Linked DNA regions of Homo sapiens: region 1 is reported to be linked to region 2. Evidence: microRNA targets listed by miRTarBase, many of them from high-throughput screens and not tested one by one. Region 2 holds a microRNA gene; the other region holds the end of a gene's coding sequence.

Evidence for each region. Region 2 holds the annotated microRNA hsa-miR-4536-3p (UCGUGCAUAUAUCUACCACAU, at 4,049-4,069, shown strand). A microRNA usually pairs through its seed, bases 2 to 8, with sites in the 3' UTR of a target mRNA and lowers its output. Matches are read on the target gene's strand: a 7mer-m8 pairs with bases 2 to 8, a 7mer-A1 pairs with bases 2 to 7 and ends in A, and an 8mer does both.
Region 1: the mRNA of NSUN3 is a reported target of hsa-miR-4536-3p. Seed matches in the 3' UTR shown: 7mer-m8 at 3,264-3,270.

What each region holds. Positions count from the first base shown.
Region 1 is chr3:94,125,286-94,133,544 of GRCh38, forward strand. It overlaps NSUN3 (NOP2/Sun RNA methyltransferase 3), which reads left to right. Exons shown (of 6, transcript NM_022072.5): 6 at 926-6,547. The coding sequence ends at 1,205. Among named protein-coding and RNA genes, the nearest start is that of NSUN3, 66 kb to the left of the region's middle. RefSeq lists an enhancer at 5,484-5,573.
Region 2 is chrX:55,447,514-55,455,772 of GRCh38, forward strand. MIR4536-2 (microRNA 4536-2) reads left to right here and starts at 3,982; the gene lies at 3,982-4,069. MAGEH1 (MAGE family member H1) reads left to right here and starts at 4,614. Exons shown (of 1, transcript NM_014061.5): 1 at 4,614-6,053. The coding sequence starts at 4,862. The coding sequence ends at 5,521. It overlaps MIR4536-1 (microRNA 4536-1), which reads right to left and starts at 4,069; the gene lies at 3,982-4,069. RefSeq lists enhancers at 4,827-4,876, 5,027-5,076.

The DNA of each region.
Region 1 (8,259 bases), not on the chromosome of region 2:
TTATACATTTTTATTTAATAATGAGACAATAAAAGTACTAGAGGTGTATTTTAAGGACGAGACCTTTTATCTGGTGATACAACTTTCTGAAGAGCTGACTGTTACTCTGGAGGCTCTCTTCATGGTAGAATGCAGAGATCTTTGATTTGGGGTCTAAAACCCATAGTGGCTGCCTTAGAAGTCTTCACAAATAGTTTATTCAATTTTCTTAGATAAAAACCTTCCAACTTTTTACCTGGTTGCCCAAATTGCAATATTGGAAGTATGGAATCAATGACTTCTTATGTATGCTTTCATATGTATGCTTTGTTTTTATTTTTACTCCCATCGATTTAAAGACAAACTCATTATTCTGTTCTCTACCCCTATTTTCCTACTTTTTGAATAGCAATCAACCAGTCTAACTTACTCTATCTTTTCCATGTTGATTGGTCTGATTATCATTTTCCAAGTCTTCAAGGATAAGTTAGAAAGAAATAGGTGTAAGATCAGAGATTGGGCACAGTGGCTCACGCCTGTAATCCCAACACTTTGGGAGGCTAAAGCAGGCGATCACTTGAGATCAGGAGTTCAAGACCAGCCTGACCAACTTGGTGAAACCCCGTCTCTACTAAAAATACAAAAATTAGCTGGGCATGGTGGAGGCCGCCTGTAATCCCAGCTACTTGGGAGGCTGAGGCAGGAGAATTACTTGAACCTGGGAGGCAGTCATCGCAGTGAGCCGAGATGGCATCACTGCACTCCAGCCTGGGTGACAAAGTTAGACTCTGTCTCAAAAAAAAAAAAAAGACTAGAAAACATCCAAAGTAATTGCAGTCTAAGTCAGAGTAAGGTTAGTTTTAAGTACGTAATCTTTGCTGTCAGACCCCCTGGTTTCTTTTTAATATACTTAACTAATCTTTTGCATTTTTCTGATTGCACACAGGTCTGCAATTAAGGCCTTACGTCCTGGAGGGATACTTGTATACTCTACATGCACGCTTTCCAAGGCAGAAAATCAAGATGTGATCAGTGAAATTTTAAACTCCCACGGTAACATCATGCCTATGGACATTAAAGGAATAGCAAGGACTTGCTCCCACGACTTCACATTTGCTCCCACTGGCCAGGAATGTGGGCTCTTAGTGATTCCAGATAAGGGCAAAGCCTGGGGCCCAATGTATGTAGCCAAATTGAAGAAATCATGGAGCACAGGAAAATGGTGACATGAATTTGTAAACTGTGTTTATGTGTTATTATATTTATATTTCTGAACTCAGTACATGTTAATATTTAAATAATTATGCAGTAACTTTCTCTGGGTCTGTTTGGAATCCTATTTAGTTAATACTTTAGCATCTTAGAATCTAGGCTTGAGAATTGTTCAGGTGTATTTTTTTCCTAGAAATATATCTGTAACAATGATTTAAGGTGGTGCAGATGGTGTTTGTTCTATATTATAAATCTGCTGTCTTTGCTTGGCATTTTATAGTTAAATTAATTAGAATATGTGGTTTTATGCATAACGTGTTTAGTTCTGTATTCTTTCTATGATAGTGCTTTGAACCTTCAAAAATTCACATTTTCCAGCGCTCCGACCATTTTCCCGCTTATCAAATGTACAAATTTGTTCAAGGTTTTTTTTTCCCCCCAACTTTTGTAACTGATTGTCTCAGAACTGATTGGTATTCTGAGACTAACTTTTTAAGCAGCACTATTTCTAGTTCTGGCAAAATAGTTTTTTTATTTGCAATGTTGTTTTCTGTTAAAGACTATATTATGTTTACTGCAAAGGTCAGTGACTCTACTGACACCAGCTTTATTTCCCCCACTTTTTTTGCATTCACAAATACAAATTGAAAGGGTAAATTATATTGAAAGGCCTTTAGAACAGCAGATTCACATGCACATGTTTGACTTTCGACATTCAGCTTATAGAATTATGGAGTCTATCCAGCAGGCTATAAAGCAAGTACTTGAGACAAAACCGGAATGATTAATAACTGCAATCACTGAACTATATTTGGAGAGTTTTGTTACATAATTGCAGTCATAATGAGCACTACAGAATCTGATTATCTTACATTCACAATCTGGAGGGGCTTTTTATTTCACTTTGTTATAAAATGTTCTCTGAGAATATGATGCCACATATTAATGCACAAGAGGGAGATGCCTAATGAGAGTGGACTGTGTGATTACCAGAACCCAGTGCCATTTACTAAGTGGCTCTCCATGTTTACATAAATCCTGGGAATACTGTATACATTTCTTCTTATGTACTTAGGGTTTTAGCTTCAGTCAGCATCACACTTTTTCTCCAGAAATTACTTCACTTAGAGTACAAACATATTTTTCCAACTATTAAGAAAAATTATGCAGCACATCTCAAAAAATAGCATCTCTTTGGAAAATAGCCTTTAAAAAAAAACAACTTTATCTGATTATAGAAATACAAAATTCTGCTAAAGCTGAATACTTTTGAATTGTTCATTATGTTCTGTGCCTTTAAACTAGAGACTATTTGCTTATTAATATTTTTTGTTTTGCAAGCATATGTAACCCGGTTTATATCATCAGGAAGTCTTAGGAAGAATTTTTTTTTCTGTACCTTCAGTCTGTTAATCATTTGTTTTCCTTTATGTCCAATTGATATGTTTAAAGTAAAGCTAAAGTCCAGGCACGGTGGCTTATGCCTGTAATCCCAGCACTTTGTCAGGCCGAGGCAGGGGGCATCTCCTGAGGTCAGAAGTTCGAGACTAGCCTGCCCAACATGGTAAAACCCCGACTCTACTAAAAATGCAAAAAAATTAGACAGGCATGGTGGCTGGCACCAGCAATCCCAGCTACTTAGGAGGCTGAGGCAGGAGAATCACTTGAACCCAGGAGGCAGAGGTTGCAGTTAGCCAAGATCTCGCCATTGCACTCCAGCCTGGGCGACAAGAGTGAAACCCCGTAGCAAAAAAATAATAATAATAGTAATTAAATAAAAATAAAGTAACGCTAGAACTGTTGGACCAAATCAAGTATATGGGTAAATACAGAAGAATAATGATGGTGGAAAAGATGTTTTCTTTTTTAAGTTATCATTATTAGTTTGTTTTTTTTATCTTCAGACACTATAGGTTTTAAAAATAGGTTTCTTTTATGTAGGTTAATCACAGAGTAAATCTGCACACTGTACTTTGTTAAATGTCGGTATTTTCCCAGTATAATGCGATGAAGCTTAATCTGAATACTTGGTATGCTATTGAATTTACTTTCCTATGATTACTGAAAAATGGATGCACGTGTGTGTGTGTGTGTGTGTGTGTGTGTGTATATATATATATATATATAATTTTATTAAAAGCAATTGCCCCAAAAGCAGAAATTGACAAGCGGGACCTAATTAAACTGAAGAGCTTCTGCACAGCAAACTAAACTATCAACAGAGTAGCAGACAACTTACAGGATGGGAGAAATATTTGCAAATTATGCATCTGCCAAAGGTCTAATATCCAGAATCTATAAGGAACTTAAATCAGCAAGCAAAAAACAAATAACCCTATTAAAAACTGAGCAAAGGACATGAACAGACATTTCTCAAAAGAAGACATTCACATGGCCAACAAACATATGAAAAAGTGCTCTTCATCACTAATCATCAGAGAAATGCAAATCAAAACCACACTGAGATAATATTTTACACCAGTCAGAATGGCTATTATTAAAAAGTCAATAAAATAAAAAATAACAGACGCTGATGAGGCTGTGGAGAAAAGGAACTGCTTATGAACTGTTGGTGGAAATGTAAATTACTTCAGCCTCTATGGAAAGCAGTTTGGAGATTTCTCAAAGAACTTTATAACAGAATTGCCATTTGAGCTAGCAATCCCATTAGTGGGTATATACCCACAGGAAAATAAATTGTCCTACAAAAAAAGACATAAACGCTTGTGTGTTCATCACAGTAATATTTACAATAGTAAAGATACGGAATCAACCTAACCGCCCATCAGCAGTTGATTGAATAAAGGAAATGTGGTACATATACCTCGTGTAATATTACACAGTGATAAAAAAGAATGAAATAATGTCTTTTGCAACAACATGGATGCAGCTGGATGCTTTTATCCTAAGCAAATTCAGGAACAGAAAACTAAATACATATTCTCACTTACAAATGGGAGCTAAATATCGAGTACACATGGACATAAAGGAACAATAGACACTGGTGACTACTAGAGTGGGGAGGGGAGGAGGGGGATGTAGGCTGAAAAACTACCTATTGGGTACTGCACTCACTACCTGGGTGACGGGATCGTCTGTACCCCAAACCTCAGCATCATCCAGTATACCCATGTAACACACCTGTTCATGTATCCCCTGAATCTAAAAAGCTGAAATTATTTTTTAATGAGAAGATAAACCATAATTATAATGAAATAGGTAATATTGAGCATTGAATATTCTATAAATTGTTTATATATGTTGTCTTTTTTTTTTTTTTTTTTTTTTTTTGAGACAGAGTCTTGCTCTGTCGCCCAGGCTGGATGGCGTGCAGTGGCATGATCTCAGCTCACTGCAACCTCTGCCTCCCGGGTTCAAGCAGTTTTCTGCCTCAGCCTCCCAAGTAACTGAGATCACAGGCACCCGCCACCATGCTTGGCTAATTTTTTTTGTATTTTTAGTAAAGATGGGGTTCCACCATCTTGGCCAGGTTGATCTTGAACTCCTGACCTTGTCATCCACCTGCCTCAGCCTCCCAAAGTGCTGGGATTACAGGCGTGAGCCACCACACCCACTGTGTATGTTGTCTTTATTGATGCTTAAAACAAACTCAGGAATAAGTATTATAACCCCCTTTTGTGAATGAGAAAACCAAAGCTCAGTTCTGTTTATAGTTTGCCAAGGCTACACTGGTAAGTAAAGGGTTCAGCCAATGTATAGACAGACTGTATAGATATATGAAGTGGGGGTGGGGGCCAAGGAGCTATTACTGCTGTTTGGAAATACTTGCCTCTTGTAGATCCAGCTTTAACATTTTTATGACATCCTAGTAATAGCAGACCCTGCACAAAGTGGATATCAGAGTTAATACTGTGAAGAGACAAAATAATGAGAATACTTTTACCAAAGATAATGAAATCTTGCATAATGTCTGCATTTTTCCATTGATTGGAGTGCATCCTTAGAAAACTGAAAATAACAAAAACCCAGGACATTTTTGGAAATTGTATGCTCTCTAGCAACTTTGCGTGAATTTTTATACAAACACTTATGAGTTATATAAAATGTTCTAAAACTAGAAAAAACATGGTCTTGTAACATGTTATTTTCTTAGATCACTGGTTTCTCAGAACATGTCTTTCTGCATGGCCTCCTCATCCCCATCCCAGGGGAGAACGTGAATGTTCCAAGGGACTTCGGCCTCTGGGGCTTCCACACTCTGGGTGTCAGGGGTACAGCTCACAGGCTTTCAGTTTGGCCACAGCTGAATGATTGAGAATTACCAGATAAATCCTCCAAATCCATTTCTCCAGAAACCTCTTCCTAGCCACACAGTGGGAGCCTTGTTTGACCTTTTTTAACCTTTCCTGGTCAGGTGCCAGGCCAGTCCTGCAAAGCCAGCAAAGTTTCATTTTCATTCAACCCTTTTTTTTTCACTTTGAATCAAATGGAATTTAGTTCCTCCCACTGTCCCCAACCCAGCTAGAGTGCAGTGGTGTCATCATGGCTCACTGCAGCCTCGACTTCCTGGGTTCAAGTTATCTTTTCGCCTCAGCCTCCTAAGTAGCCTGGACTACAGGCCCACAATACCATGCCTGGCTAATTTTTAAATTATTATTATTATTATTATTGTAGAGATGTGACCTCACCAGGCTGGTTTCAAACCCCTGGCCTCAAGTGATCCTCCCACTTCAGCCTCCCAAAGTATTGGGATTACAGGTGTGAGCCATTGTGCTCGGCCTCATATATTATTAGTTGTAAAAAAGGATGCATGTTTTCCCTCACCTTCTCTTTGGCTAATTATAAATCATTTTACTTAATATTTCATAGTTAAAGGGTAGAGCCGCGATCAAAACTGGCTCCGAGGTCCAGGCCCTTTTCCCAACACTATGCTGTCTCACAGAGTGTAGGTTGTTTGAACCCTCAAGATTATTAACTGACTTTACCCCTATTTTCCATTGTTCAGTTTCCTCCTTTTGTGTCATACCCTATTCCCAGGGGATGAAAGGATTAATCAATACTTGGGAAAAAAACAACAACCTTTGAACTGTTTCAGGCCATATTGTAAAGAAGTGTGTCTTGTGATTTTGATACCCAGAAATCTCCAGTGGAGGGTATTCTCTGCCTTCCTTTTCTTTGCAGATGCTGAGCTGAAGAATGGAAATTTGGAGCAGACTTGCAGTGTCAATTGTAAAGCAAAGAGTAATTGATATTACTTTCTGTGACACTGAGTTACTTTCAAAATAGCTTTATAAAAATTTAGGTTGCTTACCAACACATTAACTTCTCCCTGCCGTCCACACGCTGAACAGCCACTACTTTCAGAAATAGACTGAATAAATGTAATGCATTTAAATGGTTTGTACTGAATTTTTTTAAGCATCAGATATTATCTGTGGTTGGAAATCAAGGTGTCCTGCAGTTCTTTATCTTATTATGTATATTCCTATAACCTTATACTCAAGATTTCATATTACTTCCTTAGCAGTATTGTGAAAAATATTCTTTCATACAATGTGGGTAGGTAGAAAATAATAGCTACCTGCACACCTGGCTATGTGACCAAATAATCACAAATCTAATAGACCCTTATCCAAGAAGCCTTTATGCCTGGGAGATAAGCATCAGATAATCTGCATAGATGAATGCAACTCATCTGGAATACAAAGAGAAAATTAGAACCAATAGCAATAATTTTATTAGATGCCAAAAAGTCCTTTGATGCAATTGAATGAGACTACTTGTATTATGTGTTAGGTAAATTTGGCTTTGGGGACAAATAAAGCAGATAGCACAATTTATTTTCAATCCATTTATATGGTTTAAATCAATGGTTTACAATCTCCCTTTCCCTGCCTTATTGCTGCACTGGGGAGGGAAGTAAGGATGATGCCCATTTCTGATGTTACTCTTCAGGCTGACATTGAAGCTAGAAAATCACACAGATCCCATGGGTATCTGAAGAATATTCAGATGGAGATTCACAAGTTAACTAATATATGCTGATAATCTACTACTTTTGCTGAAAGCTCTAATACCATCTGTCCTGAAAACATTAAGAGTAATGTCAGAATTTGGAGTGGCTTCAGGCAAAGTCAATGGGAGAGAACCAGAAATACTATCTTGACAGAATAGTTTCTATTAATGTTATTGTGTGATAATAAAAATAAAATAAAAATTTTAAAATAATAGATGTGGGATTCTCATTAGGGAATGACTAAACAATAAAGAAGACATTTTAAAATTGATCTGTAATTCAGTGCGAAGCTTTTTAAAAAATGGGTTATACTAAATCTAAGGAGGAAGAAAGTGTGGTAGAGCTTATGTCTCTTTAAAGTTTAATTTGTTAACTCAAAGATTAACTCCATACCTTTCTGAAACTTTTCACAAATGAAAAGAGTCATTTCCTTAGTCGTGTGAGGACATATTGTCATGTTGAAACCCAGGGAAAGCATATGCTACCTTAGGAAGAGGATGTTTGCCCCACTGGAAGCTGTTTAATGGTATATGTCATGACTCAATTAAGCTTGCTATGGCTTGTCAAAAGGAATTTTCCACTGCATATTGCTATGGAATAGTCTATTACACACAAATAACTATACAGCCTAGCAGAACTAAAAATGTATAGTTCATTGAAAAATAAAACACAGAAGCATAGCATCCAGCTCCTTCTTAGTTCTTAAAAGCCAGTGGAAATAGAATTGCAGATATTAACATGAATGGACAAAGTTCAGAGAGATTGGCAATGGCAAAAAGGAAAGGAGAGGGACAGAGCTTATATCAGCTTACAATTATTAAGTTACATATTATCCAAACAAAGTGTTAACAACGTTTTCAAAATGGTAAACCTTTCTTCATTAAGGTATTAACAGTAATTGCTAGGGTGAGGGGCAGGGGATAGAGAACTCGGGAGAACTTCTGTTGACTTGTGAATTAATGTTACTAGGGAAGGATTACTGTGGGCTCATAGCTTATGGCTGCCAACTCAAAAGGAAGGGAGGTTATGATGGTGACAACTAGCTCTGATGCCACTGGAAATTGTTTTGTGTGATATTTTTAGCCATTAAT
Region 2 (8,259 bases):
TTGTCTCGGCCCAAAATCTCCTTAAGCTGATAAACAACTTCAGCATAGTCTCAGGTTACAAAATCAATTTGCAACAATCACAAGCATTTCTATACACCAACAACAGACAAACAGAGAGCCAAATTATGAGTGAACTCCCATTCACAATTGCTACAAAGAGAATAAAATACCTAGAAATCCAACTTACAAGGGAAGTGAAGGACCTCTTCAAGGAGAACTGTAAACCACTGCTCAATGAAATAAAAGAGGATACAAACAAATGGAAGAACATTCCATGCTCATGGGTAGGAAGAATCAATATCGTGAAAATGGCCATACTGCCCAAGGTAATTTATAGATTCAGTGCCATCCCCATCAAGCTACCAATGACTTTCTTCACAGAATTGGAAAAAACTACTTTAAAGTTCATATGGAACCAAAAAAGACCCCACATTGCCAAGACAATCCTAAGCAAAAAGAACAAAGCTGGAGGCATCATGCTACCTGACTTTATAGTACAAGGCTACAGTAACCAAAACAGCATGGTACTGGTACCAAAACAGAGATACAGTCCAGTGGAACAGAACAGAGCCCTCAGAAATAATACCACAAATCTACAACCATCTGATCTTTGACAAACCTGACAAAAACAAGTAATGGGGAAAGCATTCCCTATTTAATATATGGTGCTGGGAAAACTGGCTAGCCATATGTAGAAAGCTGAAACTGGATCCCTTCATTACACCTTATACAAAAATTAATTCAAGATGGGTGAAAGACTTAAATGTTAGACCTGAAACCATAAAAATCCTAGAAGAAAACCTAGGCATTACCATTCAGGACATAGGCATGGGCAAGGACTTCATGACTAAAACATCAAAAGCAATGGCAACAAAAGCCAAAATAGACAAATGGATCTAATTAAACTAAAGATCTTATGCACAGCAAAACAAACTACCATCAGAGTGAACAGGCAACCTACAGAATGGGAGAAAATTTTTACTATCTACCCATCTGACAAAGGGCTAATATCAAGAATCTACAAAGAACTTAAACAAATTTTCAACAAAACAAACAACCCCATCAAAAAGTGGGCAAGGGATATGAACAGACACTTCTCAAAAGAAGACATTTATGCAGCCAACAGACACATGAAAAAATGCTCATCATCACTGGTTATCAGAGAAATGCAAATCAAAACCACAATGAGATACCATCTCACACCAGTTAGAATGGCAATCATTAAAAAGTCAGGAAACAACAGATGCTGGAGAGGATGTGGAGAAATAAGAAAGCTTTTACACTGCTGGTGGGAGTGTAAATTAGTTCAACCATTGTGGAAGACAGTGTGGCAATTCCTCAAGGATCTAGAACTAGAAATACCATTTGACCCAGTGATCCCATTACTGGGTGTATACCCAAAGGATTATAAATCATTCTACTATAAAGACACATGCACACATATGTTTATTGTGGCACTGTTCACAATAGCAAGGACTTGGAACCAACCCAACTGTCTATCAATGATAGACTGGGTTAAGAAAATGTGACACATATACACCATGGAATACTATACAGCCATAAAAAAGGATGATTTCATGTCGTTTGTAGGGACATGGATGAAGCTAGAAACCAACATTCTGAGCAAACTATCACAAGGACAGAAAACCAAACACTGTATGTTCTCCCTCATAGGTGGGAATTGAACAATGAGAACACTTGGACACAGGGAGGGGAACATCACACCCTGGGGCCTGTCGTGGGGTGGAGGGTAGGGGGAGGGATAGCATTAGGAGAAATACCCAATGTAAATGACGAGTTAATGGGTGCAGCAAATCAACATGGCACATGTATACCTATGTAACAAAGTTGCACGTTGTGCACATGTACCCTAGAACTTAAAGTATAATAATAATAGAAAAAGAAAATTAAATAAGTTGGAAATACAGTACGCCCAGCCAACAGGCAGACACTTGAAGAGATTATGGTAAATCCATTGCAAGGAATAACATTCAGCCACTAGAATGAAAGAATTAGAGGTATAAATTGAGGAGATTTCATTATTAATTAGGAAAAAGGTTTGCCTGGAAATTCAATATGGAATGGTTTGATTTTTATAAATGAAACAAAGTGGAAAGCCATGTGTTCTATCTAAACATATACATGCCAACACATCAGCAACCCTACTCGTTGATGTTGATCCTAGAGAAATGCATGCACATGTTCATAGGGAACATGCGCACAAATATTAATAAGAGTATTATTTTGTTTTGGAAAAATGGGAACTGCATAGGCGTGGATCATTAGGAACAGGATAAATTGAAAATGATGAAATGTACAAAATTAAAATAAATGAACTAGAGTTCCATGTATTTACATGGGTAAACATAAAAAATATAAAGTTGAGCTGGAAAACCAAAGTGTTGATCAATGTATACATTATGAAGACGTGCTTTAAATAAAGGAAGAGATTCTATATTGTGTACAGACACAGAAGTAGGTAGCAAATATATACAAGTCTCCATGGGCATAATTGCTGACTTCATTATAGAGGAGCACAGTGGGGAAGGAGAGAGCAGAGTGGGTCAGGGAAGACGTAATAGGAGGGTTTTGCCATATCCAATATATAAAAGATAAACAGTAAGTAGGGCCTAATATTTAAATTTTATACAGCTAGCTATTGGTGTTTATAATATTAATCTCTCTTCTTTGCCCTACGTTTGAGATTAAGTCGCAGTAAAAAAAAATTCATGCTAAAAACAAGCAAATAAACTGCAAAAGTAATCCTCCCATTTTTGTTTCATGAGGGTAGGATTGTACATGCTATAGACTTCCATGCAAGACCCAAATTCCTGGAAACAGTAAAATAAGTTCATACCTGTACTGAAAAACAATTCAGAGCAATTATCAATGGACCAGAAACTGCGAGAATTCTCAGAATGTGGGACAGCAGATGGAGCCAGACTACTGTTTTGAGTAGGTCATGTCCCAGAACGCGTGCAAAGGTTATCCCAAACGGAGGGCTGGCTCAAGAGTGCTCTGTGTCCTGGAGAGGTGCTTTCTTTGCTTGACCAAATTGATTTATTGCTAACTTACCCAACAGGAGGTCTCGGTGGGCTCTAATTATAAAGAAAATTTCAGCAAGACAGGCATAAAGTATTCATTTGTTTCTTAAGAGTTCAGTTAAGAACACCTATAAAATCTTTTCCATCATGAATTCCTTCAGCACGCATTTATTAAATGCCACACTCACACACCGCTTGGAAAACCTTGAGAGGCAAAATCTGTGCTTACCATGTAATAAATGCTTTTCATTTTTTATCTCATTTAATTCTCACAACCCTATGAGGGCTGTACTTTAGCCCCACTTTATAGATGGGAAAACAGGCTTAGAGAGAAGTGACTTGCTTAAACTAATACCTTGAATGACATAAGAAAGATATAGAGTGCTAGTTATAGGGCTTTCCTCAATGGAGTAAAAATGGACTCATTACCCTTTTGGGCAGATCAAGACAAGCTTCAGGGAGAAACAGGTCTGTGAGCAGTCAAATGGAATTTAGATAGTTGGAGAAGGCTGAGAAGACAGGTCAGGCAGAGCAAACAGTGAGCAAAAGCAAGCAGTGGATAAAGTTCAGAGTATGCTCTGAAAGAAGCAAAATAAATCAGGAGTCCAGGAAGACTGGAGCCTAGAAACCTTGGAGCCAATCTGAACTCCATCATCCCCTCCACATTCCCCACTTCATCCATTCTGTCTGCAAAGCCCTTCAACGGTCACCTTTAAAATGTCTTTCTGCCTCTCCATCCCCATGGCAACAGCCTTAAGGCATACTTTAGTTCCCAGTGCTTCTTATTCCAATTGCTTCCTATGTGGTCTGCCAGGAAACAGTTTGCTTTTCTGAGAGGCTGCACAAATGCAATTCCTCTGATCCTGTCACTGCCCTGCTTTCATACATACATACATACATATATGTGTGGTAGATATATGCACTGTATATAAACATAATGTGGTAGATATATGCACGATATAGGTATGTATGTATGTATGTATAAAAGCAGGGCAGTATATATATCGTGCATATATCTACCACATTTTAAAGGCTCTGCACCTCTTTCACCCTGCTTGTTTCTGCAGTCCCATCTCCTCACATCATCCAGCACATCTGCCATAACAATATTATCCGGGTCCTACATGGGACCACAAATTGATTAGTATACACACAAATGCCTTCTGAAAACAGGGCGAGTGAATGAACGCGCTGTGTAAGCCAAGACAGGAAAGGAAGGCTGGAGACAGCTGACTCCTTCCAAGAATACACCCTCCCGCCACCCCTGGCCTCCCAACCCCCAACACACACACAGCCCGTCGTCAGTGGGAATGGAGCCGACGCACTCCTTCCCTAGACCGTCGAGCCAATCTTGGAATGTTTGTAGTAGGCTGAAAATACAGAAACTTTAAGCTATTTTTTTCTCTTCTGCAAACTCCAGGCCCCTCCAATCTCTAGCTGTCATTTCTGCCCTTGTCCCACCCCTGTCGCTGCCTGCCCCTTTTCCTATCTGCTAGCGGAAGTCCCTGTGGAGGACCAGCCTACTTCCTCTTTGGTGCTAGGAGTGTGCGTGGCAGGAGAGGCGGGGCCAATTTTGCTGAGCTTTCTCGCGGGCTTGCAGCTGCGGCAAGTGCTGGCGGCGGCTGCTCGCGCAAGTCAGCTGGCGTGGGAACTACCCTTTGTAGCTGAGAACGGCTTGTTTATTGCTACAAAGACTCTATTGACATTGGTAGCTTCAGCGGCAGCAGCTTCTTACGGTATAAAGCTGTTGCTTCCTGAAGAGGCTACAAGCATCCTTCCCTAGGACTGCTGTAAGCTTTGAGCCTCTAGCAGGAGACATGCCTCGGGGACGAAAGAGTCGGCGCCGCCGTAATGCGAGAGCCGCAGAAGAGAACCGCAACAATCGCAAAATCCAGGCCTCAGAGGCCTCCGAGACCCCTATGGCCGCCTCTGTGGTAGCGAGCACCCCCGAAGACGACCTGAGCGGCCCCGAGGAAGACCCGAGCACTCCAGAGGAGGCCTCTACCACCCCTGAAGAAGCCTCGAGCACTGCCCAAGCACAAAAGCCTTCAGTGCCCCGGAGCAATTTTCAGGGCACCAAGAAAAGTCTCCTGATGTCTATATTAGCGCTCATCTTCATCATGGGCAACAGCGCCAAGGAAGCTCTGGTCTGGAAAGTGCTGGGGAAGTTAGGAATGCAGCCTGGACGTCAGCACAGCATCTTTGGAGATCCGAAGAAGATCGTCACAGAAGAGTTTGTGCGCAGAGGGTACCTGATTTATAAACCGGTGCCCCGTAGCAGTCCGGTGGAGTATGAGTTCTTCTGGGGGCCCCGAGCACACGTGGAATCGAGCAAACTGAAAGTCATGCATTTTGTGGCAAGGGTTCGTAACCGATGCTCTAAAGACTGGCCTTGTAATTATGACTGGGATTCGGACGATGATGCAGAGGTTGAGGCTATCCTCAATTCAGGTGCTAGGGGTTATTCCGCCCCTTAAGTAGATCTGAGGCAGACCCTTGGGGGTGTAAAAGAGAGTCACAGGTACCCCAAGGAGTAGATGCCAGGGTCCTAAGTTGAAAATGATGTCGATTGGGGGCGGGGGACACTGTATTTGATATTTGTGATCAGTGATCATTGTTCAACTGCGAAATAGAGTGTTTGCTTTTGATAATGGAAAATTGTATTCGTTTTAAAATTCCGTTTGTTGAGAATAACAATATGTTTAAAAATATAATTGAACAAATTTTTTTCTTTGTTTCCTGTCATTGACATTTAGTATAACAGTTTTGCTAACGTTCTAAAATGAAGTCGTTCCATCATAATCTATGATCTTGTACAGCACTTATAGAAATAAGCTGTTCTTTTGAAGTTGAAATACCCAGTAAAATGTTGAAGAAGGATGGAGGATTTCTTCATATCTGACGTTTCTGAAACCCTTTGTGTCTGCTGTTGTGTGAAGATTGACATTTACCATGATTTTCCTTAGTTACTGCAGAACATAGAGAAAAATAAAAGCCTAACGAATAGTACATCTTGCGCATTTTCTGACCACCTGTTATGTGAGGCACCAGTCTAGATTCTAGGGATACTCCCTAGTACACATCCTCCAGGTCCAAAGAATGTTCTAGATTATGTGGGAAAGAAAAATAGGTAAACTGGCAGTGCAGTAAATGCTGGGATAGAGAACGAGCCTGAAGTGCCATGAAAATGTAAAAAACCTTATGTGACCTGTCTTGGGGAGTGGGCCGGGGAAGGGAGCACCATAGGATGTGTGAAAATTCAAGAGACACTTAAATAAGTTTGGGGGGGACTGAAATATACGATCAGAATATATGATGAAAATATTATGTATTAGATATTTGATTGGATACTCCACCCAGCATAGGGGAGGGAGCACTGGCAAAAAGAAGAGGACATCACAGGGTGCCTGCCACGGAAGTAGAAAATACACAAAAATCATCTTGAGAGGAGGAGGGCAGAGAGAAGGGGTGGTTGCAGGGGAAAAGGTTGTCATGGGGTACTTCAGAAATAAAAAAAGATGAGACCGTCAGAAAATCTTGGTGAGGGGACAATCTGAGGTTTGGAAATAATAGAGAAGAAGGGGAGGGAGTAAAAATGGAGGCACTGAAGGTAGCGTGGACATTTGGAAATAAACTCTTCACCGAACTGTTAAGGTTATATGAAGGGGAAAGTGGAGAACAAGGAATGAGGCAAGGGAAGAAGTGAGCGGGGCAGACCCTCAAAGGGTGGGTGTTGTGGCTGACTTTAAACTAATGACAATAAAAATGGTTAATAATAACAACCCTGAAATAATTCGAGAAAAGGCTATAAAAAAGCAGAACTTCTGAGATACTGGATGAGCCAGAGAAAAGGCTCCACCTGTGGCATCTCCGAAAGGTAACCTTGCACTTCTCTCAGGAACTATGGTTCGTTAGGGTGCACACATTGTTTAAAAGTGTGTGTGTCCAAGGGGGCAAAGGGGCAATGGAGTAAGTCCGGATTGGTACCTGGCACGATGGCCCATGCTATACTAAGTCATGTGGGATCAGGCGCAAATCCTACCACCTTTTCTCCAAGAGCTAAGCACTGCATGAACTAGGTCCCCTGCTGGGGAGCACTAGTGACAAGTGCCCAACCTAGCCCTGTGGGGCTCATGGTAGCAGCTATAACACACAAAAGAGTGGTCAGGCTACCTTCTTCCTTCTTGACATCCAGGCTCACGCTGCTTCCAGCTGTGTGCAAAGTAACGTCACTAGGTGCAGGGTAGGCTAGCAAATGACCTTCTGGAGAAGGCCCAGGGACCCACTCTCCTCAGCTTGCAGGCCAAGGAGGCTTCAAACAAAAGTAGTAACTATGACCCCATCAGCAGCTCCAAATTCATTCAGCAAGCCAGAAAATGGTGAGCGCCTTCTGGGATTCAGACAGTGTGTTAGAAACTGGAGCTGCAGAAAATCAAAAGGCCTGTTCTTTGCCCTGGGAGGAGCTGTATTTATCAATACCACCTCCAGAGGTAAACAAGGTGGGAATCTGAGGTCCAGGTTCCTCGGTGACTTTCTCTTCTAGAGCCACAGAAGTGGCAAGAGAGAGATCCTAGACAAGACCCTATGTCCATTCCCTGCAAACCCACAGTGCTTTCCTCTAGGCCACCCTGCTGCCGGTCTCTGCCTGCTAGTGCACTCTCAAGGTCTCTGTCCTCAAAAGAAACACCACGTGAAGGCAGGGGAAGAGGTGTGAGTAACCCTGGCCGCGGCATCCAATCCTTCTGGGGACCAGGCCGGATTACATTCCTCCCCCGACCCGCCCTTTTACCCAAGGGGGCTTACAGCAGTCAGTCAGCCCCAGGTCAGTCAGCTAGTAAGTGGGAGAGCTGCAGAGTAAAAAGATTTGTTGAGCACCTGCCTGTCCCAGAGGCATGCCACATATTATCTCTGCCAGGCCGGTGTGATTACTGCCCATTTAACAGGATGCTCCTCCGGCTAGCTCAGGGGAAGAGGTAATGTCTTCCCCAACCCTGTCTGAATCCATGCTTTCTTCGGCTCTGGTGGCAAGTTATCATCCAATGGTCTAAAATGGTTCTTTGCAAGTACGGGCCAAGAAGCTTAATTCAGTCAGAGAACCAGCAGTATAAGAGGAGAAAGACTGGGAGAATACCTCCAGCTGCCCTGTCAGAGAGATGACTGCTGGAATCCTGAAGGCCTCAGGCAGGAGGCTCTGCAGGGGATTGGGAAACAAGGG